7 separate regions of the Homo sapiens genome follow, and regions 1, 2, 3, 4, 5 and 7 are each linked to region 6. The links come from fine-mapping of genetic effects on gene expression. A gene starts in region 6. Each other region holds a variant in brackets. All regions are shown on one strand. Distances are from middle to middle.

The links.
Region 1: its variant is fine-mapped to the expression of TMED3 in whole blood (INTERVAL, PIP above 0.99).
Region 2: its variant is fine-mapped to the expression of TMED3 in whole blood (INTERVAL, PIP above 0.99).
Region 3: its variant is fine-mapped to the expression of TMED3 in whole blood (INTERVAL, PIP above 0.99).
Region 4: its variant is fine-mapped to the expression of TMED3 in whole blood (INTERVAL, PIP above 0.99).
Region 5: its variant is fine-mapped to the expression of TMED3 in monocytes (Fairfax 2014, PIP 0.92).
Region 7: its variant is fine-mapped to the expression of TMED3 in whole blood (INTERVAL, PIP above 0.99).

What each region holds. Positions count from the first base shown.
Region 1 is chr15:79,330,876-79,335,022 of GRCh38, reverse strand. It overlaps a transcript of TMED3 not described here. Among named protein-coding and RNA genes, the nearest start is that of TMED3, 22 kb to the right of the region's middle. The variant A/G (reference allele first, on the strand shown) is at 2,152.
Region 2 is chr15:79,827,094-79,831,316 of GRCh38, reverse strand. LOC124903536 (a long non-coding RNA gene) reads left to right here. Exons shown (of 2, transcript XR_007064730.1): 2 at 1-4,223. Among named protein-coding and RNA genes, the nearest start is that of MTHFS, 68 kb to the left of the region's middle. The variant G/A (reference allele first, on the strand shown) is at 2,556.
Region 3 is chr15:79,235,265-79,239,487 of GRCh38, reverse strand. The region is part of intron 1 of ANKRD34C-AS1 (ANKRD34C antisense RNA 1); the gene reads left to right. It also overlaps the pseudogene HNRNPCP3. Among named protein-coding and RNA genes, the nearest start is that of MIR184, 28 kb to the right of the region's middle. The variant A/T (reference allele first, on the strand shown) is at 2,448.
Region 4 is chr15:79,409,149-79,413,371 of GRCh38, reverse strand. It overlaps a transcript of TMED3 not described here and a transcript of MINAR1 not described here. Among named protein-coding and RNA genes, the nearest start is that of MINAR1, 21 kb to the left of the region's middle. The variant C/T (reference allele first, on the strand shown) is at 2,451.
Region 5 is chr15:79,257,355-79,261,577 of GRCh38, reverse strand. All of the region lies in intron 1 of ANKRD34C-AS1 (ANKRD34C antisense RNA 1), which reads left to right. Among named protein-coding and RNA genes, the nearest start is that of ANKRD34C, 23 kb to the left of the region's middle. The variant C/TC (reference allele first, on the strand shown) is at 2,126.
Region 6 is chr15:79,308,423-79,312,645 of GRCh38, reverse strand. TMED3 (transmembrane p24 trafficking protein 3) reads right to left here and starts at 1,534. Exons shown (of 3, transcript NM_007364.4): 1 at 1,229-1,534. The coding sequence starts at 1,396. RefSeq lists silencers at 1,361-1,430, 1,641-1,690.
Region 7 is chr15:79,510,221-79,514,443 of GRCh38, reverse strand. All of the region lies in intron 2 of LOC105370919 (a long non-coding RNA gene), which reads right to left. Among named protein-coding and RNA genes, the nearest start is that of MINAR1, 80 kb to the right of the region's middle. The variant AG/G (reference allele first, on the strand shown) is at 2,438.

The sequences.
Region 1 (4,147 bases), 22 kb before region 6:
AGACAGTCTTCTCAAGCCTTTCTTTAGTGTCCCTCCCTTGATTTCAGCAGTGCAGTGCCTGTTCTCATTTTGGCATCTTAAAGTTAACTATCATTTCTGAAATGATGTTTCCTCTTCCACATATTCCCTGAGACTGGACAGCTCCTTTTCATCTCTTTTGTTGTATTATAACCCCTTCTACAATTTCTTGTAACCTTCTCTGAAGTCTTGTTGCCTTTTTTAATTTTTTTCCTTTTTCTAAGACTATGAGGGAAAAAATGTGTGCACTGTTTGACTTCCTGGAGTAATTCTTCCGAAATACATTTCCTGCGTGCCTTCTATTTGTTACTTTGCCGTGATCCTGGTCTTGAATTGTCACTTTTCCTTTTGTGATCCAGGTCACTGATTTGCTGAAGAGTCACACTGTGTGGGGAGAAGTTGAGGCAGAAGCAAGCTGCGAGTCAGAGGTGCCTTCTCCACATCCTTTCTCATCAGTTCTCCTGAGATTTGGGGCTATAAAGCTCCCCCCGACCCTTCCTTCACCTGCCACATCTCCTGCACACCTGCCTGAAAAGCTTCTCCTCTGACCCCACCTGCCCTGCCACTCTGAAATGAGGAAAAGAGAAGGGGTCACCCCTGCTGCTCACACATGGCCCCTAGATGCTGCCATTCCAAGCTCCACCATTTGGCCATTCAGGACCAAAACCTTCTTCTTTTAGGAAAGTCTTAACCCTCTAGGACTGTTCTAGTCCTCTCCTTCCCTTTAGTTCAAATATCACTGCATTTGACAGCCACTCTTCATAGCTAGTGATTTTTGACTATGGCTCTTTCCTGGTTTCAGTAATTTAAATTCTATTTTACTCTTATTTGCTTGGGTTGATTTTAAGGAACTGGATGTCGGGGGAAGACAGGGATCTTCCTTTTTACTTCAGAAGCCCAAGATAATTAGTTTAGAACAGTTACTCTTAAGCTATTAGTTCTATTAATTTGCTATTAGCTAATAGCAAATTAAGTTCTACTAATTTGCTATGGTCTGTGAGGCTACTCTGGATTTGTGATAATCTTATCAAACCACAAATGCTTAGGAGGATATGTTTTCCCCAATTTCTTAGAGCTGAGGTGAGTGCATATATATTAATAAAGTTGGTTTTGATTCAAACCATGTTTGAAGGAGAATCTACCTGAGTACAGCCCTGTTTTACTTAGTTTGAAATATTATATTGTCATTTGAGGACTCTTTCCTACTAATTCTAATTCTCACAGTAGCTTTAAACAAAGGGTGTGGGGGCCTCAGCCACCAGGAGTCTATATTGAAAAAAGGTAGCCAAGCCATTACTGTTTCCTGTGCACTACTGAAAGCTGAAAATAGCCCAACAAAACATGTGAAAGTCTTATCAAGTTCTTGAACGATTTCTCCAGGATGTGATCAAAAGTGTAAAAGTAGTTACTGGTGCAGAAGCCATATCTGAAGACTATTTCTTCCTATGGTCAAATATTGAACTGAAAAACACAAACCTGCAGAAGGAAAATAGCCTTAAACTATGTTAGCATCTCCAGAATTATAATGGCTCAGTAGTTTTGAGGGCATACAAACGCTTATGTCTAGCGTTATATTAGGAAAAAGACAGTTGCTTTCTACATAACCTAAAAGTTCCAGTTTGCAGTTTGGTGGTGAGCAGGGAGGAGTTAACAACATTCTAGTCTGTCACTGCCACCAGAGCTGGAAAAACAGGTTCTCCCCAAACTTGCTCCATATCCTGTCATTCAACTGTGTTAGATTTTGCTTGCCTATGAGTTTGACCAAGAATGTTCTATCAGCATTCTTACAATTTTGCTTAAATAAATGTCACAGGGGAATGGTCTCCCCAGTAGACCTGTACCAGGTAAAGTCCTAGCACAGATGCACTCCGACTTTTGGTTCTTTGGAGATGAATGTCCTAGAATACACAGAGTTTAAAGACTGTCCCACTGCAAGCAGGCAGTCAGAATGGAGTGCAAGAGAAGGATTTATGCAAATGTCAAAGCACAGAGGAAGCAAACCAGGCGAGATGGAACACTGGGCAGTCAGGGGCCATTCATTCCTGCACAGACTGGGAATAAAGTGGCCACAGGCTTCACCTCAGCTATGTTTTTCCCTAAGGCTGGAGAGGAGGTGAGCCTGAAAGTTTGGAA[A/G]TGACGAAGTTAAATTGCTAGACTCCATGTCCCACATCATACAATATGGAAGCCCAGAATACATCATAAACACTAGATCAGATGACTTTTGTTCAGAATGTCACCCAGCTGTGCTCCAGGAGGGAGATATTAATCCATGGGAAATCACAACCAGGTAGGTCCGTGGGCCTGGAAGGAGGCCACCATGAGACACTTACAGCTGAATGATAAGCGAGAATGGGCCTGCCGGTTTTACCTTGTCTGGAAAGCAGCCCGCCTTGCCCCAGCATACTGGCCAAGCCTCTCAGAAGGCAACATCTTCCTGATGGCAATAAACTATGGGACTATTGCTGGAGGGTTGCCCTTAAGAGAAAAACCAAGTCTTTAACATGTCTTAGTGGGAGGAAGATTCTGGTAAAATAATAGCTTGAATGTGCCCCAATTGCCCTCTACTCCCACTTTTAACTCATCCACCTCACCAGGCTGAAGAGTTTCGCATTGGCCAGATGGCCTGTGTGAGCGAGGCATCACCACATCTGAGAGTTTTGAAGCAGCTGTACAGGATTGTCTCCCTTGGAGCCTGATGGGCAATCCTGTCTGCTGCTCTCAATTAATACAGTTATTAATTCTATCCATTGATGATGGCGGTATCTACCTGCTCTATCATTCCCTCCATTGGTTCCTTTAACATCAGTATGTAATCTTCCTGTTCAGTACGATAGTTTGCCTTGAATTCTATTTTGTCAGATGCTACGGCTATTGCCTCACTTTTCATTTGGTTATTTCCCTGGAAAGTCTTTTTCATCCTTTTCTTTCTTATTTATGTATTTATTTATTTTTGAGACAAGGTCTTGCTTTCTTACCCAGGCTGGAGTGCAGTGGTACAATCATAGCACACAGCAGCCTCCGTCTCCCAGGTTCAAGCAATCCTCCCACCTCAGCTTCCACAGTGTATAAGAGTTCCCTTTTCTCTGCATCCTCACCAGTATTTGTTATTTTTTGTCTTTTTCAAAATAGCCATCCTAACTGGGGTGAGATGATACCTTGTTGTGGTTTTGATTTGCATTTCTCTGATAATTAGTGATGTTGAGCATATTTTCATATATTTTGTCGGCCATTTATATGTCTTCTTTTGAGAAATATTCATTCAGATTGTTTGTCCATTGTTTAATTGGATTTATTTTTTATCTTTGATATGTTTGAGTTCCTTGTACAGTCTGGATATTAATCCTTTATCTGATGAATACTTCGAAAATATTTTCTCCTGTTCTTCAGATTGTCTCTTCACTCTGTGTCTTTTGCTGTGTAGACTTTTTAGTTTGATATTATCCTTTTTTTTTTTTTTTTTTTGCTTCTTTTGCCTGTTCTTTTGAGGTCTTATTTATAAAATCATTTCCCAGACCAATGTCCTGAAGTGTTTTTCCTTTGTTTTCTTCTAATAGTTTTAACATTTGGGGTCTTACATTTAGGTCTTTGATCATTTTGAGTGGATTTTTGTGTTGGGTGAAAGATAAGGGTCTACTTTCATTCTTCTGCATGTGGATTTTCAGTTTTTTCAGCACCATTTATTGAAAAGACTGTCCTCCCAATGAAGGTTCTCAGCATTTTTGTCAAAAATCAGTTCACTGTGTTATGGTTTGGGTTTATGTCCCCACCAAATCTCATGTCAAACTGTAATCCCCAATGTTGGAGGTGGGGCCTGCTGGGAAGTGATTAGATCATGGGGGCAGATTTATCATGAATGGTTTAGCACCTCTTGGTGCTGTCCTCACAATCTGGTTGTTTAAAAGTGTGTGGCACCTCCCCTCTTGGTCTCATACTCCTGCTTTCACCATGTGAAGTGTTGGCTTCATGAGTAAAAGCTCCCTTAGGCCTCCCCAGAAACAGATGCTACTATGCTTCCTGTACAGCCTGCAGAACTGTGAGCCAATTAAACCTTTTTTCTTATGAATTACCAAGTATTGGGTATTTATTTGTATCAATGTGAGAATGTACTAATATAGCTATAGATATGTAG
Region 2 (4,223 bases), 520 kb before region 6:
CCAGGCCGTCCTCACATGGCCAAAGAGGCTGCCACAAAGGCCTCACCTTGCCTCCCACCAGGACACCCTGGGCCAGGGCAAGAGCAGCTGCTTTAGCTCAGCCCTTCAGGTCAGGTCTGCAGTAATCAGCTCCTTCCAAGGAAGGCTGGGCCCAATGGGGTCTCTGTTAGCTTAGGCATGCCCTTTAGGCTTAATTCTCTCTGGTTATGAAGCCCCAAGACTCAACCCATCCCCAGCTGGCTAGTCTATTCTGTTGGACTCTGACATTTTCCCCAAACCTGGCTTTTCTCTTGGTTTCCTTACAAGCCTTTGTGTCTTCACCAAGTTGTTACATTTCTTGCTTTTTCAGTCTCTGCAGATGTTCCAACCACTACACATCCCCCTTCTCCCCCTCCATACCCATCTTCCTCTTCCTGTCTCCCTTTATCCTTCTGTCTCTTCTTCCTCCTCTCTTCTTATTGCTCATCCCTGACCTCCGCCTCGACCTTCCCCTCTTTTCCTCTCTAATCCTTCCCCTTGAACCCCAGGGATATAGGCCTGTCTGCAGAGGAAAGATCTTTGTCATGTGATTACTAAACCCCCAACATGTTATTTGGTAGAAGGCAGCACAATAGGAGTTTTCTTCTAGGGGCAAAGGGGCTATAAAAGATTTCCAAATATCATAGAAAATCACCTGAGGATGCTGAGCTCAGGGCAGCTGCAGCAGGGGTGAAGGTGGGTCACAGCCCCCAACCGCCATGGAGATGAAAGGTAACAAAAGGAGAGGGGAGAGTTCCATACCTCATTTTATTCTCTTGACAGTTTTGCGCAGAATTACCCCTGTCTGTATTATTATCACTTGTAAAAAAGCATTTTTTTCATACCATTTAATCTATCAGCCTTTTATTAAAGCCTAGATAAAAGTAGGAAAAAAAAATCTCATCAACATCAGCCACCAGAAGGGAAATTTCAGAGACTGAGATGATCAGATTTCCAAGTTTACTGAAAAACCTATAGATAACTGCATGGCTGCTCATGCTATTTTATAAAATAAGTGCAGCCAGGTGAGCCATTTAATAACGTGGGAATTGTCGGCTGTGCGGATAGTGGACAGAGCATGAGCTCACCTCGTAAAGGCGTAGGCTCTCGCGGAAATGAACACTGCGGCACACTGCGGGCCGGCAGCACAGCGTCACTCTGTAGACTGAGCCTCCCAGCTTCTCGGGAGCCGTCCACGGTGCAGCCAGCCACTATGGGACACAGTGCCTAGGTCTTTCCAAGAACAGTAGAGCCCACACTTATCCCCTCCCATGTCAGCCACACTCTGGAGCTCACATTTGGAGTAGTGAAAGGCTTTCAAAGGTATTTAATCTCACCACAATCATGAGATAGGTATGAAAACCCTCTTTTCCAAATGAAGAAATTGACCTCCACAGGAGGGAAGGAACTTTGGTGAATCCACAGAGTGGAGTGGCGGTGCTAGGGTGATTACCTAGGGGTCCAGTTCCAGTTCCTGTTCTCCTTTTGCTCCATTGGGCTTATCCCATCACCAAAAACAGTCTAGAGCCGGAGATGTTAAAGAAGCCACCCTTTGACCTGCAGGGTAAGTGTGTGAGAATTGGTGGGTGGGTGGGGATAGGGGAGTCAGGTTTGGGCAGTAGAACGGAGGAGTAATGTATACTCTAAATAGGTTCATTTCCTGACTCCCCCACTTATCTGTGTGACCCTGTATATGTCACTTAACTTCTCTGTGCCTCTATAAAATGAGGAATGATAATAATATCTACCTCATAGGTTTGTGGTAAAGGTTAAAAGAGATAATGGATCAAGCATTTAATACAGTATAGTAAGTTGGATAAATGGTATAGAGTTGGGCCCACTTTTGGAATCAAAAGGAATTTGTAAAAGTGCCTCACACATGCCTGTCCTGTAGAGGTGAGCAAGTATTTTCAATCCCTTCCTGATATCTTTCCTGTGGCTAAGAATCCTTACAGGCACTTGGGACCCCTGCCTTCCTTGCTGTGGACTAGGATGCCTGTAGGTACCAGGTTAGAAGAGTTGCTTCTTGGAATTGCCATGTGACTGTACAATGTGCTATCTGTGGCCCTGCCATTGATTCACAGTATAACCTTGAGCTGACCTCAGTCTTACCTGGATGGGCCTCTGTTTCCTTAGTTATAAAGGGATAAGGACAGAGCTACGTTTGAGGAAGTGTAGTTTGTGAACTTCTACATCAGAATCAACTCCATTGTTGATGGCTGAAAATGTTGATTCATGGGCCTTGCCCCAAGTTGGCTCAATCACAATCTCTAATGGTGCTCTAGAATGTATATTTGTAAAAAGCCCTCTCCACTTGCCCCATGCCCTGGCCTAACTCTCAGAGATTCTGATATAATTGACCATTAATACATAATGAAAGTAAATAATGGATTAATAAATTAAAAATTGATTTACTTTTTAACTTTGGTTGTTTTTAAGATTTTCCCATTTGTTTTTGTTTTTTAGCAGTTTTACTACATGTGCCTAAATGTGGTTTTCTTTGAACTCCTCTAGGGTTCATAACACTTCTAGAATCT[G/A]TGATTTGATACCTTTTGTCAGTGTTGGAAAATTCTCAGTCATCATGTCTGTAAAAATTGTTTCTGACCCATTTGTTGTTTTCCTCTCCAGGACTCCAAGTACATGTATGTTGGACCTGCTTGCCATGTCCCATTATGTCCCATACATGCCCCTCTACTACCACCTGTATTTTCCATTCATTTTTTCCTCTCATTCTTTCAGTGTGGATATTTTCTATTGACCTATCTCTGAATTCACTAATCTTTTTATCAGCTGTGTCTAGTTTGCTATTAAACCCATCTATTTAGTTCTTAGTTTTAATTATTGTATTTTTCAGTTCTAGAATTTTCATTTGATTTTTTAAAATAGATTTTAACTCTTTGCTAAAATTAATTTCTTGGACATATTAATCAGTTATTTTGAAAGTCTTTGTGTGATCATTCCAACATCAGAGTCTCCTTAGAGCTTTTTCTTTCTATGTCTATTTTTTCTCTTGGTTTCTGGCCTTGCACATCTCCCAATATGCTTCATAATTCATTTATTTAAAAAAAGTTTGTTTTTTTTTTTTGAGATGGAGTCTCACTCTGTTGCCCAGGCTGGAGTGCAGTGGCGTGATCTCTTGGCTCACTGCAACCTCCACCTCCTGCATTCAAGCGATTTTCCTGCCTCAGCCTCCCAAGTATCTGGGCCTACAGGCACATGCCACCACTCCTGGCTAATTTTTTTTTTTTTTGTATTTTTAGTAGAGACGGGGTTTCACCACGTTATCCAGGATGGTCTTGATCTCCTGGCCTCGTGATCTGCCCGCCTCGCCTCCCAAACTGCTGGTATTACAGACATGAGCGCCACCACACCTGGTCTTGTTTTTGTAACTTTTTATTGAATGTCAGGCATTGTGTATGAAAAACTGAAGAGAGAATTTGAGCCTCTGGATGATGCTATTTTCCCCTTAGAGCATTTACTTCTTTCTGCTTTTGGAAGTCAAGATAGGGGCAGATTGTTATAATCCAGTCTGGGATTGAGCAGATTTGAAGCCAGTCTTTAGTTTTTGTGAATACTGGCTTATTTGGGTTAGTCCTTATTCCCAGGCTTCAGGAGTTCCTTCTGAAAGCTTGGGTTGCATACCAGGGCCGCTCCTTTTTGGTGATGGCTGCACTATTTTTGTTTCCCCAGGATGGTGGGGCAGCAAAGCTCTGCTTAGCTTTGTAGACTCCTGGCTGCCAGTTTCTACTTCATTTCTCCTCTTGGCTTCTTCACTGATCAGTTTCTACAAAGCACAACTTCTCAGCTTTTAAGTTTTTCTTAAGAATCAACAAATGCTTTGAGGCAAAAAGCTGTGCCAAATATCAGGTTCAGTTCTGTGCTTTCTTTCTCTCTGAGATCTTGGTGCCGTAAGACCTCACCACATTTGATAGCTCTCTGATGCGTTCAAACAGGGCATTTCTATTTGTTCTTGGTAGTAGAGTTGATCTGAATATATTAGCCTATCAAAGGCAGAAATGGAACTCCCTGATAGTGGTTTTTAATCTCTTTGGGTGATTTGAATGTAAGATGCACTGGACAAAATCAACTCCTTGCCACATCATAAGAACCACCTTAGTCTGTTGTTTAAAAATGTTGATTTTTCTGGTCCTATCCTAGATGTACTGAACCAGAATTTCCAGAAAAAAAAGACTGATTTGTTGTGC
Region 3 (4,223 bases), 73 kb after region 6:
TCCCCCTGTCAGGCCTCTCCTCCTGCACATGCACAGGGTCAGGGAGGAAGGCCCTGTTCCATCTGCACAGACACTCTGTGGGAATCCAATAGTTGAGTATAATTCAATTACTGGATCCAAACAGAGCATTGTGCTTAATTCCTACCTTCCCAGTAGCAGTAGTGATCAAAGTCTGTGACTGAGCTCTCCCCAGGAAGAGGACACTAGAGTTAGCCTTGTTACAGGAGTCCCTTAGTCCCCTTGATGAGAAAAGTATGGGATCATAGTACACAGACCTGGATTTGAACGGTTGGACCACTGCCAGCTTTGAGATGCTGTGTAAGATGTCACTCTCCAATCTTCCGTTCCATCATCAATACAAAGGGAATAATAGTAATAGTATCGCAAGATGCCATGGGGATTATGGATAATGCAGGGGCAGCACATAGGAGGCACTGAATAAATAGTAGGGTTTTTGTTTGTTTGTTTTTTGTTTTTCCTAAGTAACCAGTTTATATTCTAGTCATGGGTTACTTACTAAAAGTTTGTGTAACATGAGATCACATCAGATCAGAAAACATCAAGTGGGTAGTATTATTAACCGATTAACATACAAAAGAAAGTGCCTTGATATCATGTATCTGGGCTCCAAGGGTAGTCCATAGTTCAGCCTCTTCTTTCTATTCTGCTTTTTTCACCTGTTATATAAAATGATCTATAAAATCCTTATAAATAAGACATGAGTTTTGCCTGTAACGCGGTAGGATGAAAAAATACCAGTGCTGCATGCTATGAAACAATAGAAACTTTATAGGGGAATCCAAGGTTTGTGTGCACAAAAATTATAAATGCCATTTTCTGCTGTGCTGGAAAAACTGAAGCATAAAACACAAATGAACTAGGCCTTTCAAGGATGAGGTATCACAACACTGGTAGCTATTTAATGTATTCATCTTAAGAAGACTGGATGCTAAAAATGCAATCACTGCAATTAATAAAGTTGAGAGAAAACACAAAGATTAGCTAATATGAGTAAAAGATTATTTAGGGTAAAATAAATGTGTAACATTCTCTATGTTCTCAATCACCTGGGAAGGCAGACTATGGAATATCAGGAAATAAGAATTTTCTTGTTTTCAGTAACATTGAGGTAACACTTCAGAATTCAGAAGGTAACTGTGGCTATAAATAGTAATTAAAAAGACAAAATAGAAGAAAGCAGGGGTTCCATTTTCCAGCTGTTGCAATTTTCCTGAAATCTTAATGTTTTTGAGCCTCTCCTATTTAAAGACAAAACAATTTAGCACACAACAAAAACTTCAAAAAGGGTGCCAGCTGGACCACAAAGCACTGATGAAAAGGCAGAGAGGCTATACTTCCCAAACTTTCATTAGGATGTAAAAGCCATTTTGAAAAACAATCTCCACTCTCTGTCAAGTTATTTGACTCCTCAATGCAACATGCATCTCAATGAAATAGAATTTGAGTAGTGTTATGTTGGTATGCATAATGATTATGACTTCAAGAAAAATATATCTAGTACGTTCTGGGGGTTTTGTGGAGGACTCTGTAAAACAAAGAGTTTGAAGTAAACAATAATAAAATACAAAAATTTAAAAAACAGGGTTTTTTTTTCCTCCAAATTCCTGGTTTAATAAGGACCTGTTTATTTTGAGGAAAAAAAGTTCCCAAACATCAAGCTGTTCACAAAAATAACACACAGTATCAACTTTAGAAAACAAATCTTAAGACTATAACACTCATTATTTTTCTAGAGGATGCATTTGACATGCCAACTCTCATTCACAAAAATACATTGTTACATTTGTGTTGAACTGCCCCACACAGCACACTAATGTGGGGGTGTAACACACATACTTCTAATCAAAGCTGCTTTCAGGAGCTACTCAACTAAATAAGCTTGCCTTTGCAGTCAGGGAAGCAACTACTGAACTTATGTATGAATGAAAAGAACTGTCCTCCCTGCATAACAAGAGATTATTTTGGAGACAGTTGATAAAAACCATACATCCTTTTTATTAAGTCATAAAGAGGTATCAAAATTAAAAGCAAATATTACAAGGTAAGACTTAACAAAACTACTAAGAGTGCCAAAGGAAGTGAAAATGGGACTAGGCGCAGGGCAATATGAATTAATAAACATGGGAAGGACAAGGATGGGAAGGACAGTGAGCATGTGCCAAAGATACTAGGTGAGAGGCTCTGGTGAAAAATTTGATCTTAGACAAGTGCCTAGGTAAAGAAATAATGGAATAAGATTTCTAAACCCCACTATGTGCTTAAGAGTCATCCATGCCATTGGTGCTGTCTCTGTCATCCTCTCCTTCCTCAGCCTCTTTTTCATCATCCTTGATCAACTCCAGCTGGTCATCCCCCCATCCTCATTATCATCATCATCCAGTAGGTCCCCCTTCTCAGCACAGTCATCTGCACGCCCCTCAGACTCC[A/T]TCTTCACATTAGTCTCATCTTTTTCACGGAGCTGCTGCTCTGCTCCTCTTCTGACTTATCATTCCTCATCTCTACTGCGTGTTTGCTCTGTTCCTTTTCAATTTTTTCCAGGTTTTCCAGGAGAGAATCCACTTTTTGTTTTATCTGGGTCAACTCCTTCATAATGGCCTGAAGGTCATCTCCTCTCAACTTTCCAGACTTGGAAGATCCCTGCTGTCCACTCTTAGAATTGAGGCCACTTTTGCCCCTTCATGAGGTGTTTCCTGATACACGCTGACGTTTTGAGAGCACTACAGCCCAAGCAATAGGAGGAGGAGGAGGCACACGTGCTGAGTAACTGTACATCGTGTCATCATAATCACCTTGATAGTCATAGCCCAAGTGAAAAGAGGAGCTATACATCTCCACTGCAGATCGTTTCACGCCTGCTTTTCCACGGTTCACTTTTGGCTCTGCAGCCAGGTTAATATCTAAAACCTGGCCAGCAATCATTCTATCATCCTCTCCTGCTCCAGCAGCCCGGGCATTTCTCTCACTAAAATATTGAACAAAGGCAAAGCCCTTATGAACAGCACAGCCCATTTTGCCATACTTCGAAAAGATTGCCTCCACATCAGATTTCTTGACCACAAGAGTGTTGAGATTCCCAATGAACACATGGGAGTTCATGGAGCAAGGATTTGTCTTGTTGGTAACGTTGCTGGCCATTGTGTTTGCTGATAAGGTTTCTCACAAAGCTGAAAACAGGAGGGGGAGGGAGAAGAGATTCGATTCTGAGTCTCCTACTCCCGGGTTCTACATGGAGAAGCCAACTGCTGCTCAAGGTCACCAACACGGCCACAACCACTCAGTCTTCGTCTCTTCACAAAAAAATCAATAGTAGGTTTTTTTCCTCACCTGTGTAACATCTTGTCACTCCAGATAAACACCACCATCCCTGAGCTGGACTTGACCCAAGTTCCCTGGTCACATCTCCATGGCTTCCAAGTAGATGACAGCATCCTGGCTGGGCTATCAGGTCCCAGGATGCAATGATATTACAGAAATAGTTCCTGTGGCCCCATAAGTCTACAGGATTGAGGCTGCTTCTCACCTCTGTCTCCTTCCAAATTGGCTCTGGAACAGGGATAGGCTGTAATATATAGATGGGACCCTCAGAACCTCTACCTGAGGGGTTCAGGGGAGCCAGAGGCAGGTAACACCAGGCAGGATCCTCCTTGAATTCATCCTTTATGCCTTTAACAAAGTAACCAAGCACATGCTCTAGCGATAATCAATTTAGGCACATCCCACAGATTCCAGCTTCTCTGCCACCAACCACCAGGCATGATCTAAGCAAGCTCTTTCACCTCTTGGAGCCTTAATTTTCTCATCTACAAAATGGAATAACGCGATCATCCTTGAAGGTGAGTTACATGTGATCATGGGTGTGAGCAGCTCTTTGTAAGCAATGAAGGCCCAAGCAATTGGAAGGGGTGGTGATCATGGAACTGTCAAAGGTACATTTGTTGCTGTGAAAAACTGAAGGTACTGGACCATTTTCTCATCTTTCTACAGGTTGCTGGAATCACAACTTATAATTAATGCACAGTGATATGGCTTGACCCAGTTTCCTAAATTGGAATGTTTCAGCTAAAACTGATGAAAAATTCTTGTCTTCCAAGCAGAACTAGCTAGATGAACCCCCTCCAGAGCTAGTGAGTAAATATATACAGTGAAATATATATATATAAATACATTCACTTATTCAACAAATATTGATTGAATGTCTACTC
Region 4 (4,223 bases), 100 kb before region 6:
TGAGCCAATAATTGGGTGGATCACAGAGCTCTACATACAGCTGTCTGCGTTGCAAACGATTGACCTGCCAGTGCTTTGAAGGGAGCTTGGGTCCACAGCTACAGTCCTTCTCTGAATCTCTTTTTTAAAAATCTTTTAAGTTTAGGGGTACATGTGCGGGTTCAGAACCCTGGCTGGAGAGCTAGTGTGGTCATTTGGAGAAAGAAGGTACTCTAGTTTTTTGTGTTTTCAGAGTTCTTGCTCTGGGTCTTTCTCATGTTTGCAGACTGATGTTCCTTCAGTCTTTGAAGTTGCTGTCCTTGGGATGGTTTTTTTTTCTCTTGTATCCTATTTGATGACCTTGAGGGTTTGCTTGTGTTATAAGATGAGTTCAAATGACTGGCTTCATTTCTGGAAAATTTCAGGGAGCCAAAGCTAGGCTTCCAACTCCTAGACTGCATACCCTAACCCTAGGGGATTGGTATCAGGCCCAACTTCGTTCTCTGGCTCCTCAAGGTTAGGAACCCACTGTGCTGGGTGCAGCCAAGGTGCTCCCTGACTGCTGGTCACAACACTCCAATGGGTGGTGCCAGCCAAAGCATTTTGTAGGGCAGTGGCAGTGGAATCTGTCCTCATTCACATGTGCCAGTGGTAGTGGCAGTGGCAGCGCAGCAGGGTGCATGCTCATTGGCTATGGCAGGGTGCTAGGGGGTGCCCAGGTGCCAGCCTCCATGTGGGCATTGGCAGCAGCAGTGGAGGCAGCATGACATGGGAAGGTGGGCCCCTCACGCCCAATGGCAACTTCGCATGCTGTCCCGCTGGTAGTGGTGTTAGCATGGGAGCGGGAGACTGGCAGGTGCTGGTCTGCGTGCACCCTCTGTCTGAGTTTTTGCAGGCAAGGGTGGCTGCTCAGGGTGTGGTAAGTCCACTGTTCTCCCTGCCTAGTTTCACTCCAGCAGCAGTGTTAGTGCAGGGGCAAGGCACTGGTGAAGGTGAGGCTGGTGGACTCTGTGCCTGCCAAGGCTTTGACTGCAATGATGGCATGGTGTGGGGAGGAGGAGGCTGAGTTCACTCATGCCAGCAGCAGTGGCAGGGCAGGGCACATGCACACATGCACACTGGCAGGGCAGAGAAGGCAAGATCTGCCTGCTCACATGTGCACCAGCAGTGATTGGGGGGGATGGCCATGGGCCCAGCGGAAACTGCAGTAGAGGAAGGAAGTGGCTGGGCTGGTGCATGTCCATAGGGGCTGCTGTGCTGGAGCTTTCTGCTTTGGGTAGCCCTGGGGGCCCGCATCACAGCTACTGCACTGGCAAACATGGTGTGGTTTGCCAGCACAGGAGCTGTGATGCGGGCCCCCAGGGCTACCCAAGGCTGCACTGCAAGCAGGCACGGCCAGTCTGGGGCTCCAGGAGAGACCAGAAAACCAAGGGGTGCTCAGGTTATTGAACTGGCCTCATCTGACAGGCAAGACCACCCTGAAGAATTTAGTTTCAACAGTCCCCCTAGGGTTAAAGTCTGCCATGGGAGCAAGTCGAGCCTAGAGGGATGGCTGTCCCTGGCTATGCTTTATTGCAAATGCTCCCACACCAAACCCTCTGGGCTCCACCCAGGCTGAAGTGCTGCCCCTACCACTTCTCCAAGCAACTCTCCCTGCCAGCTCAAGTGTCTGTGGTGGTCAAGGAGTCTCCTCCTGCCGGGATTCCAGAGGCCTGTGGTGAGAGCAGGTTGTTCCTTGCCAGTTTAACTCACCTGTTCCCCTGGAGTCACTGGGGACCAGGAGCTAGTCCCAGTGCATGGTAGCTCTGTGCAGCAGCTTCCTCCCACTTCAGCGTAGCTTCTGTGTCTTCCCTCCATCCACTCTCAGTGCCTCCCCGCTGAAAATCTGTTAGGAGGGTGCCAGTCGTCCCAGTCCCTCGGTGGCAGGTGTTCCGCCTGGCTGCATATAGTCGACCATCTTGTCCACCTCCTTCCAATAAGCTCCTCTGAATCTCTTCATTGTTCAAAAAGATAAAAAGATTTAAAGGATGAAATGTGGAACCATGAACTGCCCAGGATAAAGCCCTCCATTTGCATTCTCTAGTTCTGTTGATTGCCTAGCCCCTTTGTGGAAGAATTTACCTTTATTGCTGGCTCTAATTATCCTCCCCTAGCCAGAAAGTTTACACATTCACCTGCCAGAAATGGGGAGCTCTTGGGAACCACAAGATAAATTGAACAGGCTCTAGTTCCTGTTTTTCCCCTGGATGCCTGTGTGACCCCGGGTGAGTTACCTAATATCTCTGCAACTATTTCTTCCCGCATACCTTAAGTGATTAAATAAAATGATCAGTTCTGGAATTCTGAAAATTTCTTTGCTATTGCTAATTATGAGCAACCAGCATGTTTCTTGTTCTCGGGTTACAAATCAGTAAGACAAATATAAAGAGAATGCTTTGACATCAGGGGTCAAAAGACACATAAAACACTAT[C/T]GTATAGATGTGACATTCCTGTCAATATATTTTCATTAAAAAGGCAGGACATGTTTCTGGAAATGTATTGTGATAGACTTGGGAAATTATAATTTAGATTGAAGCACTTGCAAATCATTGCTTCTGAGAGGTTGCTGCCAACTTTCATAATTTTATTTTTCCTTTATCCTGGGCTGTTATTCATATACATGCATCTACGAGAATGTATATATATATATATATACACACACACATATACACATATATATATTTCACATGTATCTTATTTTTTTCCACAATTTAAAGCTTAAACACCTATGGGAAATCTTCAAGGAATATTTTGTAGGTCCCCAATAGCAGTCATTTCCTGTTAAATTAAGCTGGTGATGGAATTTACTGTATTACCTAAACCAATTTTCATCCAGTTGCAGTGAACATCCTGTCTGGCATGCTGGCTGCCTTTGTGATAGTTGTGCTCTTTTGCTGGCCACATCACAGCTGCCCCTCCAAGTGCTCTCCCCAATTAGGAAGATGCAATTAGATGACAGCGTCACCCTCTCCTATACTGTCAGTAATAAGGAACAGATGCTTCATTCCGATGGGAAAAATTGGGTCTTTTCACAATTATTAATATCCTGAATTAGAATGGGTTGCTTTGTCATTTTACCTAGTTTTCTATGAATCTATAATATTTAATGTCTTGTTTATTTAACCATGAGGCTGATAAAGAAAGGGAACACTATAAACCATTCTAAGCATATAGAATTATGGGCTATGTTTCTGGAAGGAAATATATAAACCTCCCAGGCCTATGAACTTATTTTTCATTTTAAACAATTATTTACTTAATGAATAGGTGGCATATGTGTGCGGCGTAAAATTCATCGGGTATGAAAGGAGCATAGGGTGTAGTGAAAAGTACCAATCCAATCTAGTATACCTCTTATCTAAACTCAGCACAAAATTTCCTAAAATGGATCTTCGGGTATTAGTTTACCCCTCTACAGGGGCAACTAAGGTTACCAATTTCTTCTGTATCCTCTAGCTTATTTTACAGTTCAGGAAAATTGGGCTCAGAACAGCAAAATGATTAATCTACAGTCACATGGCAAGTTGTTTGCTGCAGCCAAACTAGAACCTTGGCCTCTTCACTATTAACAAAATTTCACCCATAATACATAGCTGTCACTCGGCTCCAGGCAAACCAAAGGCATTCTTTTCTTACAATACGAACCAAAACTTTCTAATAAGAGCAGAAGGCTGAGGAAAACATTCAGACAAAGTGCTTTTATTTGGTTGAATGGTCAATAAAGAACACAGAATATTCTTTTTAAAAGAGATGTATAAGAAATCTATTCCAACGACCTTATTTTACACATGAAGAAATTAAGGCTCACACTGGGAAACAATTGTCCAGCAAATTAATGTTAGCGGGCCCATTTGCATGAACTCTGAGCAGTGTTTGTGACTTTGCAAATGGAATACGGGTCCTCCCTTGCCCCACCTCCAATCATTACCTCTTGGTTCCCCTGCCTATATCTGGGGCATTGTGGCTGTGTTATACTGGAAAATGCAGGAGCGCATTGATTTCCTATAATGGTTTTATCTATAGAAATTTGTGAGGACATCCTTTGGTTGGAAGATTGGCACTGAATATCTGAAAGTGCCAAATTGAACTGAGAAGGAGTGTTCCAAAGTAGTGCCTCAAATGAACCTTTGCTCATCAAGAAAAGTCTCTCTCTGCACTTGCAGACTGTAACTCCTCGACCTGTCCTTATAGGATGCATCCTGCAG
Region 5 (4,223 bases), 51 kb after region 6:
TCACGTTTTGAGAGACATCCATTGGAAAAAATATCCAGAAATAGTATTTGAAAACGAATTAACAATAAATATGAAAGATCATCAACGTGACCATATCCTTTGACCCAGTTATCCTGCTTCTGGAAGTGTTTTCCAATTCAACAGAGCATAAAAAGGCTTTATTCTAGGAATAAACATGCATTAATACATGCAAAGTACCTAAAGAGAGGGTAAGAGAAAGGATCTAGTACTGCTAGGGGCATATTCCATGCCTGGTAATTTATCAGCAATTTATATATTTCCTCCTACTTAATCCTTACAAAATCTTTTAGAATAGGTATTGCTATGCCCAATTCTCATATAAGAGACCGAAAGATAAGAGAGCTTGGGAAATTTGCCCATGATTACACAGCCAGCAAGTAGCAGATCCACGATTCAAACTTAACCTACCTGTCTCCAAAAACAAGTACTCTTTTCAGTACGGTTTTTAAAGATGTACATGGAAGTGTCTAAAATAGCGTCAAGTGGACCGTTAACAGCTGAGAAGACAACAGATACAGACAGAGATGACAGTGTGCTCCGTCGAGGGCCTCAGCACAGCCCCAGCCTCTCCCTAGTCCTCCCTTTCTCACTCTCCTCCCCTGAGCTAGCTGAGCATCAGTTTGGCTCCTTTTTCTCTCCCTGCCCTCATCCCTCCCAGGTTCCTGGCATGTCTTGGACCTGAGGTCCCTTCTCACTGCTCTCTCACGCAGCTCCCAAGCACCTTGCCCAGTAGAGCCCCCTTGCACCCTGCTTGGTTGGTCAGCACCCCATGGACATGCAGCCTTGACCTTGGCATGGGAAGCCTCCACTGTGTCAAGCCCAACATCCAGGCCTCTGAAGACAGTCATTCAGGTAGGATGAAGGGAGAATGGGGCCAGAGAAGGCAGGAGAACATTGGGTGGCCCTGGGGTGCTTGTCATTTAATAAATGGGATAGACAGTGTGTGCATGTGTATGTATATGTGCATGTTTTAATGATTGTGAGTTGTGGTGGGGTGTGTGGCTGTGTATGTATGTGTGGTTTAGTAAATATGAGTATCAGCATGTATGCACGTGTGGGCAACATGTACACTCATCTGCATGTGTGTGTTTACATGTATATTGGGGATGCCTTTTATGAATGCAAATGTTATTTTGTGTAAGCATATCTGTATATGCTATCATGTAGGCAGGGATGATTAAGCTAGATGTAATGTCTTTTGCTTCTGAGAATGAGAGGATACCAGCAAATATATACTTTGTTTTACTAAGTCTAGAAGCTGAGATTCTTGAGTATGACTGTTCCCCGGGGCAAGGGTATCTCAACTTTGGCACTACTGACATCTCCACGTAGGTAACTCTTTGTTGTTGGGGCTATTCTGTATGTTTAGCAGCATCCTTGGCTTCTCCCCACTAGATGCCTGTAGCAGCCACCACCGCCTCTTCCCCAACCATTGTGATAACTAAAAACATCTCCAGATTTTGCCAAGCATCCCTTGGGCTACAAAATCATTCCCTGAGAACCACTGTCCTAAACCATCCTTTTCATCTCCCGCTGCATATTAAAATCATCGCTCGGGCTCAAAAAGATCAGTGGTTTCAGGCAATAGTGGGGAGGGAGGGATGACTAGGCATACATAGCACAGAGGATTTTCAGGGCGGAAAACCACTCTATATGATACAATAACAGCAGATGCATGTCACTCTACATTTGTCTAAACCCACAGAATGCACAAAACCAAGAGTGAACTCTAATGTAAACTGTGGTCTTGGGTGATAATGATTTGTCACTACAGCTTTATCATTTATACACTTTATTTTTAAAAATATCATTTTAAATTTACCCTCTGGGCAGGGGGTATTGATAATGGGGAGGCTGTACACTTGTAAGGATGGGAGTATACAGGATATCTCTGTACCGTCTGCTTAATTTTGCAGTGAACCTAAAACTTCTCTAAAAACTAGAGTCCATAAAATAAATACATAAACAAATAAAACACACATATGCAAAAAAATGCCTAGGCTCCACTGGATCAATTAAACCAGAATTTCTTGAGCATTGCCAATTTTTAAAAGGTCCTAGGGACTTTTCTAACAATATTCTCTTTTTTCTTTTTTTTTTTTTT[C/TC]TAACAATATTCTCATGGGCAGACTGGGTTGAGAACCCTTGCCTTAATCCAGTGGTTCTCACACTTGAATGTGCGTCGGAATCCCCTGGAGGCTTCTCAAAACTCAGAATACTGGGCCTCAAACCCAGAGTTGTTAACTCAGGAGGTTGATGAGGCCTAACAATTTCCATTTCTAACAAGTTCCCAGGTGATGCTGATGCAGGGACCACACTTTGAGAACCACTGCCTTAAAAAAAAGCGATTTGCAAACTTAATGCCCACAAGAATAACCTGGATAGCTTACTGAAAATGTACATTTCTGTGTCTAAATATTCTGATTCTGTGTATCCTGGGTAGGGTCCAGGAATTAACTTTTTAACCTTAACAAGTCATATCCCAGATTATTTTGAAATAACAGAAAAACCAAATCTATGCAGGGTTTCTAGAAAACCCCTTTTGGGAAATGCTGCAACATGTCAGACAGAAGATCAACAACAGTGTGATGGATGAGGCCCTTTTTCTGGAAACAGGCTCAGTTGGGGGTGCTGCTGAGGCTGGGGCACTAGGAGAGCCATCTCTGCAGCAGGAGCCTAGGGCCCAAGAACTTCTCTCACAGATTTAGTGAAGGCGGGGGACGTTCACAGGACCAGGTCGAGCATGGAGGCACCAAAGCCAAACTCTCTAAAATTAAAGAAGCTCTTGGAACACTAAATGAAGAGGACCTGATGGCCAGTCCCCATTGCCTCCTGCTTTGCTCCCTGGACACTGCCTAACTGATAACTGACCTTCATTTCCCAAGGCCTTTACTCACACTTTCTTTCATTTACAGTAGTGTCAAGGCAGGCACAAAAATGGCCCATGTGTAGTCATGATGTCTCAGCCAGGCGTGGCCAGGCACACATACAAGAGAGAAACCCTCACCTTTCACATTATCAGGTTCTTACCCACCTCACGTATACCTGTTTACCCACTGGTCACATCCATTCTTTCTTGTTTACAAGCCCTCTGGTCTCCATCCTTGCTGTTTACTTTCCTGTTTCCATCCTTACTTGGGTTTCTTAGATTTGACACAGCAGTCTCCTGGCTTCACATATGGCTTCACTGAACAGTAATAGAGACTGATGTAGCCTTGGGCCAGCCTGGGTGTGGCCCTCCCCGTGGGATCCAAACACAAGACCCACTGCTTCTGAACCATTGCCTACAGTGGTCCCCATGACCTGACAGATGACAGTGCATGCATAAGACACCGAAGTTACTTGCCTTCAAGATGCTGTAATCTGGATCTGAAAACTAAGATGGAATGAGCAAGGCAAGAAAAAGGAAAGACATGAATATTAAAATGTTAGAGATTATGAATATTTGCAGATAATGTTATTACCCACCTTGAAAACCCAACACACTCCATGGAAAAGCAACTAAAAGATATATCAATAATTTTACACAATAAATGCACAAAAATGAGTACTTATTCCATATGCCACTGAAGTGGCATCATTGTCTGGGGTAAATACCTGGAGTTCGTCATCTCATGCCGAGAAGATTAACGAGACGACACAGAAACACACACATGGAGTGGGTTAAAGAGCAGAAAGTTTAATAGGCAAAAGAAAAGAGAGAGGAGAGCAGCTATATCTCGTGCGAGAGAGAGAGAGACTTCTGAAAGGGGGAAAAGCGGCAGACTGCAGCAGATTTTATAGGCAGGCTTGAGAAGGCGGTGTCTGATTTACATAGGGCCCACAGATTGGTTTGACCAGGTGTGACGTTTACATGGTGTGTGGGTAAGGCTGGTCGCCCCCACAATCTTATTATGCAAATGGACTTTCTACTTAGTCAACTGCCATCTTGTCTGCTCCTTGCTGTACACGTGGTTGGCAAGGAAAAGAGAAGATGGAGCCGCCATTTTGATCATCATGCCTATTCCCAGGTAGTTTCTTCCTATTGGCACAACTGTGGGCATTCACCTGTGCAAGCTTCTAGCTTGCTTGTCTATGTCTGCAGCTTGATTTTACAGGCTGTTCTTTCTTAAAAAGAAAATGATTTGGGGGCTGCTTTTCATTAAAAGGAAAACCTTACCGAGGACTCCCATACCCTCACTATCTTCCTAATTTCTTTTTAATTC
Region 6 (4,223 bases):
CAGGTAGGCAATGGCTATAACCAAGATCCATCAAAGGACACGGTCAATGGCCTCCATCTGCTTCCAAATTTAAATGGCCTCTTTGTCCGGACAAAAGTTACTAGTCCTGCTCAGCAAGCTTTGCAAAAAGCAGTGAGTATCCTGTTGCTAAGTGTGTTTAAACCCAGGCTGGACACACTTTGACAAGGGATTTCCGCCCTGGCAGTGACCAGATGACATCTGAGGTCCCTGCAACCACAGAATTATCATTCTTTTTGTCATTGCACCTAGGTTGCCCATGTTAACCCAGTCACAATTTGCATGTTGTCCACAAAGACCTGAAAGTGGACAAATCAGTGACTGAGACTACCACATAGAAGTTGTCTCCAAGCGCAAGCTTCCTTCAGTGCCTCTAACCACAGAGGAACTGGTCAAATAGCTTGCCCCCATTCCTGCTGCCCGTGGCCCCTCATTTCTGAAGTGCCTATCAGCATGCGTCCACAAGCAGATAGCTGTCTGAGTATGATGCCCACTTGGCCCCCAACCCTAGACCTGCTCACTAAATATCGGGGCAGACTACTCACTCAAGACCTGCTCCTGTCACCTGTGGGCCACGGGATCTCTCAAAGGAGACAGGAATACAGGAACTGAGCTTTTCTAAGCCATATGGCAAGAGCCAAGTCTTGCAGCCACACCGCTCCTTGTAAACACCGCCAGGCCTCAATGGCTGCACTGATCCCTCCTTTCCAAAGTGCCCATTCTCACTTCTGCTGCCCTCACCTCACTCCAACTTTAAACGCTGGAGAGGGGAGGAATAAACTAAAACTATGAGCCCACTTCCTCTTGCTGCCATTTTTCAGTACTCGAAGGCACAAGGTGGTCTAAGAGACTGGGGTTAGAGAGCCTGTGTCCAGCCGATCAGAACTGCCGTTGGTTAGTGTCTCGGGGGCCTGCGGATATCTCTTTGGCCAGCTCCCCAGGCTGCGGGATCCGCCCTGGCGTCCCCATCCCGGGCTCGCACCTGCGGCGCTGACTACCTCCTCGCTGGCCAGGCTCGTCTCGGGTGGGCCCTGATGACCCAAACCTTCCTCCTCACGGGGAAGTCAACTGGTCTCCGGGGACTCCCACCCCATGCAGCCTCCCTGTAGCCTGTGGCTAATTCGAGCGCCTCCAGTCAGGGGCTAGCCAGTGTCCAGGTGAGACCTGGGAGTGGAGGGAGAAGGGAGCGCTGCCGGGCGCCCGGCCTCACCTGGTAATCCAGGGAGAACTTCACGCCCTGCTCCACCTCCTCGTGGAAGCACTGCTTGGCGTTGTCCGGCAGCTCGAAGGTGAGCTCGGCCCCGCAGGGCTGCTCGGCCCGGCGCAGGAGCAGCAGCAGAAGCAGCACGGAGGCGGAGCGCGGGACAGTGCTGCCCATGATGCTCTCGGTCCCGTCTCGAGGGCCGCGGCTCGGGCGCTGCGCCCCCGGCGGGCTGGGGCGACGACTACCGACCGGGTCCTAGGAGGATGTAAGGGGATAGACGTGGCACCAGCGGAGCTCTGCGCTTCCGGGAGGGCCGGCGGCTCAGTGCGCAGCCGCGCGCTCAAAGTGGGCCCGGGCACCTTCCGCCCGCTGCGCGTGCGCGCTGGCCGCGCTGCGCCAGGGGACACGCCCCCCCCACCCCCCCGCAACGCCTCTCCCGGCTCGGAGGGTGGGTCTCCGCGGAGGGGAGGTGGGGCTCCACCTAGCGCGCCCCTACCCAGAAGAGGGAGAAGCCCTCCCCGCTGTTCTGCGCGCTCCCGGACCCGCAGGGCTGAGCATCCCCCCAGGTCGACCCAGGTCCACCCTCCAGCTGCTGCAGCACGAAGCACGTGGGATTTTACTCCCTCTATAAGGCTCCGCTTTTGACAGGCTCTGTAACTTCAGTCTCACACTTCCCTCGAGAACCAGTCTCCTTGTCTTGAAATGGGTGTGCCCAAACCTAACATCCACAGTAGTTAGGGAGCTAGGTGAAAGATAAGGGAACGCTGGGAACCCGATTAACACTCCTTTCTTCATTCCCATACCCTTCCCAAGGTGAAAGAGTGTGCGAAGGGGGTGGGGAGTGGGGAGAGTAAGTAAAGACCCATCATTACACCTGCTCTGGGAAAAACACGAGCGTGCTCACACACAAACGATCTCATGAAAATCCAAGTAAAGTCTCGCAGCGACTTCAGGTATATTTTGGCTGTCAGGCTCGTTGAAAATTCTTTTTGCACAAAACTGTCATTTTTGCACTTTGACTTCTTAAAAGCTCTGAAAGCAGATAAATTGGTTTACTGTCTTACCCATGACCACTGACTTAAGATTCTTTTGTATAATCGTAACTATAGGTATAGTTTTATATTCACTGTGATCCAATAAACAAAGAGAAAAGACGTAGATTGTGATGTCGATACTCAATAAATAACTTATTCAGGAGAGCATTACTAGACGTGGTATATCTTGACTTCAGGAAAGAATGTTACTGCCCATATAGATTTCCGCTGGCCACATTCACTATGGATGAACACGCTAATGTGTGAAAGCAATCTGTAGGCTTGGAAATAACATGCATGCATAACATAGTTAATAATATTGACTGGCTCAGTGACAGGCATGGAAGAGGTGTTTAGTAGTGTCCCTTAAGCTTCCTTCCCTGGCACGGTCCTATTTCACGTTTTTTTTTTTTTTAGGAACTGATAGAAAACATGGAAGTAATAATCATCTGATCTAGATGAACTAAGTGGAGAAATAAATGACAGATATAAAACCACAATTGGCCGGGAGTGGTGGCTCACGCCTGTAATCCCAGCACTTTGGGAGGCTGAGGCGGGTGGATCACGAGGTCAAGAGATCGAGATCATCCTGGCCAATGTGGTGAAACCCCTTCTCGACTAAAAATACAAAAATTAGCTGGGGGTGGTGGTGCGTGCCTGTAGTCCCAGCTACTCGGGAGGCTGAGGCAGGGAGGCAGGGGTATTGCTTGAACCTGGGAGGTGGAGTTTGCAACCTGGCGACAGAGCAAGACTGCGTCTCAAAAAAACAAAACAAACAAACAAAAAAAAAACACGATTGCCCTGGCACAGGTGGAGTGCTCTGCTAAGACTAACAAAAAGAAATTTCGGGCTGGGCACCATAGCTCATGCCTGTATCCCAGTATTTGGGGAGGCTGAGGCAGGAGGATTGTTTGAAGCCAGGAGTTCGAATCTAGCCTGGGCAACATAGTGAAACCTCGTTTCTACAAAAACAAACAAACAAAAATTAACCAGGCATGGTGGTGTGGGTCTGTAGTCCCAGCTACTTGGGATGCTGAGGTGGGAGGATTGCTTGACACCAGGTGTCTGAGGCTACAGTGAACTGTGATTGCACTACTGCACTCCAGCATGGATGACAAAGGGAGACCCCATCTCTAAAAATCAAAATAAATTCCTCCGGATTAAATGTTAAGTCTTACATTTAAGTTCCAAGAAAACACCTGCATAAGTTCAGGGGAGGAGCTGACATTGAAGAAGCTCTAGTCAGAGCATGCAGGCTGTTGGCTGGGACACCTCGGTTCTCCTCCAAGCATCCTCTTACATCTAATAGGCTAGATTACTTCCTTATATGGCAGGTTCAGGGCAGCATCCCAAGAGGAACTAGGCAGAAGGAGCAAGGCCCCTGAGACCTAAGCTTCAGACCTTTTCCAGTATGACTTTCTCCACATTCTGTTGACCAAAGCAAGTTCAAAGGCCAGCCCAGATTCAAGGAGGTGGAAAAATGGAATCTACCTCTGGATTTGAGGAGTTGCAAAGTCACATTGCAAAGGAGGGTCATACTGGGATGGAAGGAATTATGGCTGTTAAGCCATCTTCTATAGTATCCAGACTCACTCAGCTTGTCAATGGCTAAGCCAGAAAGTGAACCCAGATCTGCTTAATTCTGAAGACTACCAGCTTCCCACTAAACACACTGCCTCTACCCATACCTCAGGGAACACTTGTCCTACATGTTCCATAGGGCAAACCTTGGACCAAAGCATGAATCTGACACTGAGGCACATTTCAGCTCACACAATAAATGATTTTCTGGAACCAGAGATTTCCAAAAATAGAATGGACAAGGATAGTACATTTTTCATACCCGAAAATATTCGAACAGATGCAGGTGAACAACCAACCACTTAGCAACAACAGAGATGATTCATGAGCCTGGGTGACAGATAATAGTGGTGTATGACCTCTACGGTTCCTTCCAACCTTGATAT
Region 7 (4,223 bases), 200 kb before region 6:
GGAATTCTTTTGCTTCCCTAAAAATTCTATCTGTCTAAGGCATTAGTTTCTTCTTATCCTATCCTGAAGCAGGCAGGATCATTCTGAACAGAATCTGCTTTAACAAGCATCTTCAAACATTGAAGTTACTGCAATGTGCACTTTGTGACAAGTCCCCACTGCATATTTATAATTGAGGCCAAATGCAAGCAACACTCTGTTCAATTTCTTCCTGTTGAATCACAAATTCCCCCAACAGACACACGGTGCTACTCCACTTTCCGTAGAACGGAGCCCCGCCCACTACTCAGGCACGTGACAGAGCTGAGCCAATCATATCCTCACTCCTTGAACAGATGGGCCAATGGGTGGCATGGGGTTCAAGGTGGGCCAATTGCAGTCTTTCCCTGAGATTGTTCACACTTTACCTGGCAGAATAGAAGCTGCTTTTCTTCTGTAGCTCTGTTAAGATGTGAATATGGAACTTCCAGCTGGTAGGCTCTTGCCCCTTTCCCTGCTCTCCAGCCCACCAGTGGGCAGGAGAGAACGCCAGGCTTGGAGTGGAGCACAAAGTGTGGGGCGAATGGGTCCTGGCAGCACTCCACTGCCAGGTGCAGTGATTTCCAAGGGCGGCTCCCACACACCCTTCCCACACCGTTCCCACATCCTTCCTACATTACAACCACATGAATTTTTTTTAAAAATAAAAGAATTCTGTGTTTGTTTCCTTTGCTTATTCTAGTTAGTTTTCTTCACCTGCAAGTAAGAGTTGATATTTATTCTGAGTCGCGCGGACTTCCCCTACATCGTGTGGTGTTAGTTGCTCTCAGACAGTGTGAATAAATTTCCATAATTATAAAAATTCAAATTGAACGGTTTGGTGTGTAAAGTTATTCATTCAACACATGTTATGTGCCTGCTATAAACAATTCTAAGCACAAGTGCTGGAGAAGGAAACCCCCATCCAGGCCATCGACCAGCTAAATGATTTTTTCTATTCATAAAATGTCAAAGTGGACGTGAATAATTTCATTTCATCCCCTTAGCCTTTCATTTTACCAATAAAGTGAATCTAGCATAATCAGTTAGCAAGGATCTAGGACTAGAACAGCGAGCCCCTTCTGTAGCATTACACTGAAATCAGGCCCTGGAAAATGGAGATGCTAACTGTTAGATGTAAACACCTGGGCCAGCAGCCTGGGAGAAAGATAGATGGGAAATAACTTTATTATCTGTGTAGTTCTTGTATCAGGAACAAGCATTTGGTGCTGGGGATATATTCTTAGCAGAGGCATTGGGTTTCACATAAATAGTACATCTCTTTGTCAAAGGCCTCGTTTTCCTATTCTCTGGAGTCATCTGCTACTGTTTCTACACTCCCGCCTTCACACATTATTCAGAAGTGTAAATAACAGCTGCCAGGTTGGAATAGCTTCTTTCTTCCTCCAAGGCAGTGTGAGGTGGGGGCTTTGCCCACTCACTCTCCAGCCTCCCTTCACAGTTACAGCCAGAGCATGGGGCTGCATCCCCCTGGACAAGCTGGTCCTTTTTATGCTGGAGAGGTAGCATGCATGAGGTGTATGAGCCACCGCACCAGGGCTAAGGTTTGCATATAGCAAAGAAGGAAGGCAGGAAAAGTATTCTTGGAAAGCAAAGCCCCTTAAACCCAGTAATCATTCCCTTCTCTAGGACTGGGCTCCTTCTCTGTTTTTTGAGAAGTCAGGCTCTTCCAGAAGGGCCTTGGGACACTGGGGCAGAGGGTGGCTGACCAGAGGGTGCTCAGACATTATGCCAATTGGATCATTTGTCTCAGTGTGAGGTGGGGGCTTTGCCCACTCACTCTCCAGCCTCCCTTCACAGTTACAGCCAGAGCATGGGGCTGCATCCCCCTGGACAAGCTGGTCCTTTTTATGCTGGAGAGGTAGCATGCATGAGGTGTATGAGCCACCGCACCAGGGCTAAGGTTTGCATATAGCAAAGAAGGAAGGCAGGAAAAGTATTCTTGGAAAGCAAAGCCCCTTAAACCCAGTAATCATTCCCTTCTCTAGGACTGGGCTCCTTCTCTGTTTTTTGAGAAGTCAGGCTCTTCCAGAAGGGCCTTGGGACACTGGGGCAGAGGGTGGCTGACCAGAGGGTGCTCAGACATTATGCCAGTTGGATCATTTGTCTCAGTCCTGATTTATTTCCAGGCCTATTCACTGGAGGAAGGTGTTGGCATCAGAATAAAAGAGGGAGTGTGTGGGCTCCAGGCTCAGGAACCCAGATAACTCAGGCCAACTCAGAGGACTTTGTGAAAATGCTAGGACCTTTGTTTTTCTCCACAAGGTACTCATTGACTGTGCCTTGTTGTTCCTCAATGAAATGTTTGAAATGAGCGGGGCCTAGGGACTGTTTTGGAGGATGGCGGAGAAGAAAGTTTCAGGGAGACCACAATCAACCCAAGAGAGGATCCAACAAC[AG/G]GGGAATCGTTAAGTAACCAACACCTTATCAACCTATGGCAATAAGGAAAATGCTGGACAGTGCTAAGAAGAAAGGCATGCTGTAATTTGATTGGGATGATATAGAAAGGAATGATAATAAATGGTTAACTTTGAGTAGGAAGATTCTAGTCTATTCATTTCTGTTTGTTTTGTTCTATTTTCTGAACCATCCCTCTTTCTGTTTGCCAGCCTCGACGAGGGGCTTTGCACTAGTTCTTGCTTTCCCAAATGTTCTGTCCCCAGCGGTGGCTGGCTTCTCTCATCCTCAAAAGACACCTGCTCAGAGAGCCTTCCCTGAGCACCAATTGACAATATGTCCCCTGCAGTAACTACAGACACTTCCAGTTTAAAACCAAACAAATAAAAGTCAGAAAAATTGGACTAAAATTAATTTTAAAATAGATGTTTAGGAGGAGATATCCTCACTTTCAGCTGGGATAGCCAGCATATACAAGCATATATCAGCATAAGAATGCAGCTTAAGTAGCAGCATGTCTACTCTGGTTTTTTTTTTTTTTACAAGCAGTGGTAATTGTTAGACCAGGGTGACACAGGGAGAGTAGATGTTATTCTTAGGGATGATTGAAATAAAGTACTGTGATTCTATAACTTAATGTGTGTATTATTACCCAGATGATTTATTTGTTCTCATAATTTCACAACCTGCCACTGGTCTGGACTAACTTATTTACCTATACAGTAATGTGAAATAGGAAACGGATCTTGCCTTCCAGATGGATAAAGCCAAGGTGGTTAGAAATGATGAGTTGTTAATGGTCTGAGGTCCATTCACTCAGTAAATAATTATTGAATGTTTATTCTTGAGTAAACACTATTGATCAGAATGAGAAAATGTTGTACTGGAGAAAAGGAAAGAATCGAGGTTAGTCAATAGCACTGACATTGGTTAAGGTATTAGCGTAAGGAAATAATGTAGAAATGTATGGGATCCTGGAGAGGACACCAACAGAACTGAAGGAAGCTTTCACTCTCTGGACCGTAAGAGTAGGAGTCAACACTGGATGTTTGATCAAGTCAAGTTTAGACTTTGGTAAAGGCTGAAATAGGCATATGTTACTCCTAGTTATTACCTGGCAATGGAGCTCTCTCCTCATGCTTATAGGAAGAACACATGGAAATTAAGTGTAATAAATGGTGCGATAGTAGGTGGCCTATTTAATTTCACCTCAGGGGGGATAATACAGATGAGGAATTTGGGGTACCCGAATAAATCAAGAGCTTCCCCTCCACGTTGCCTTTCCTGTTCTAGTTGTTGCCATCACTGTGTGGAGAGAAAGTTGAATGGAGGGACGGTGGAGTCATTCTAGTGGATAAACATAGTAGCCTGCTGTTTGGATTGCTTTCTCCTTCACTTGCCATTCCCCACAAGGTTTGATTCTTCCCAGAGAATGAGAAAGGGAGTTCAACAGGAAGTCAACAGTTACCATATTCCTAGGGACAGCGATGGGTGCTGGGGAGTTGGTGAATGCAGTCCCTACCTCCAGGGAGCTTACAGTCAAGCAGGAGAGACAGATGAGAAAACAGTCCATTTCAGCAGCGTGAGAAGTGGTTCATGAGAGTGGAAGGGGGGTAATGAGGGATCTCACATGAGTGGCCCATATTGAGCTTTCAGGTGGTGAGGAGAGCTTCTTAATTTTAGCTAGGGGTCATTTTAGCTAGGTCCCGAAGGACAGGTGTGATCTGGTGGGTAGAGGAAAAGAGGATAGTCCAGCGAAAATGATCCACATATGCCAAGGTCCCAAA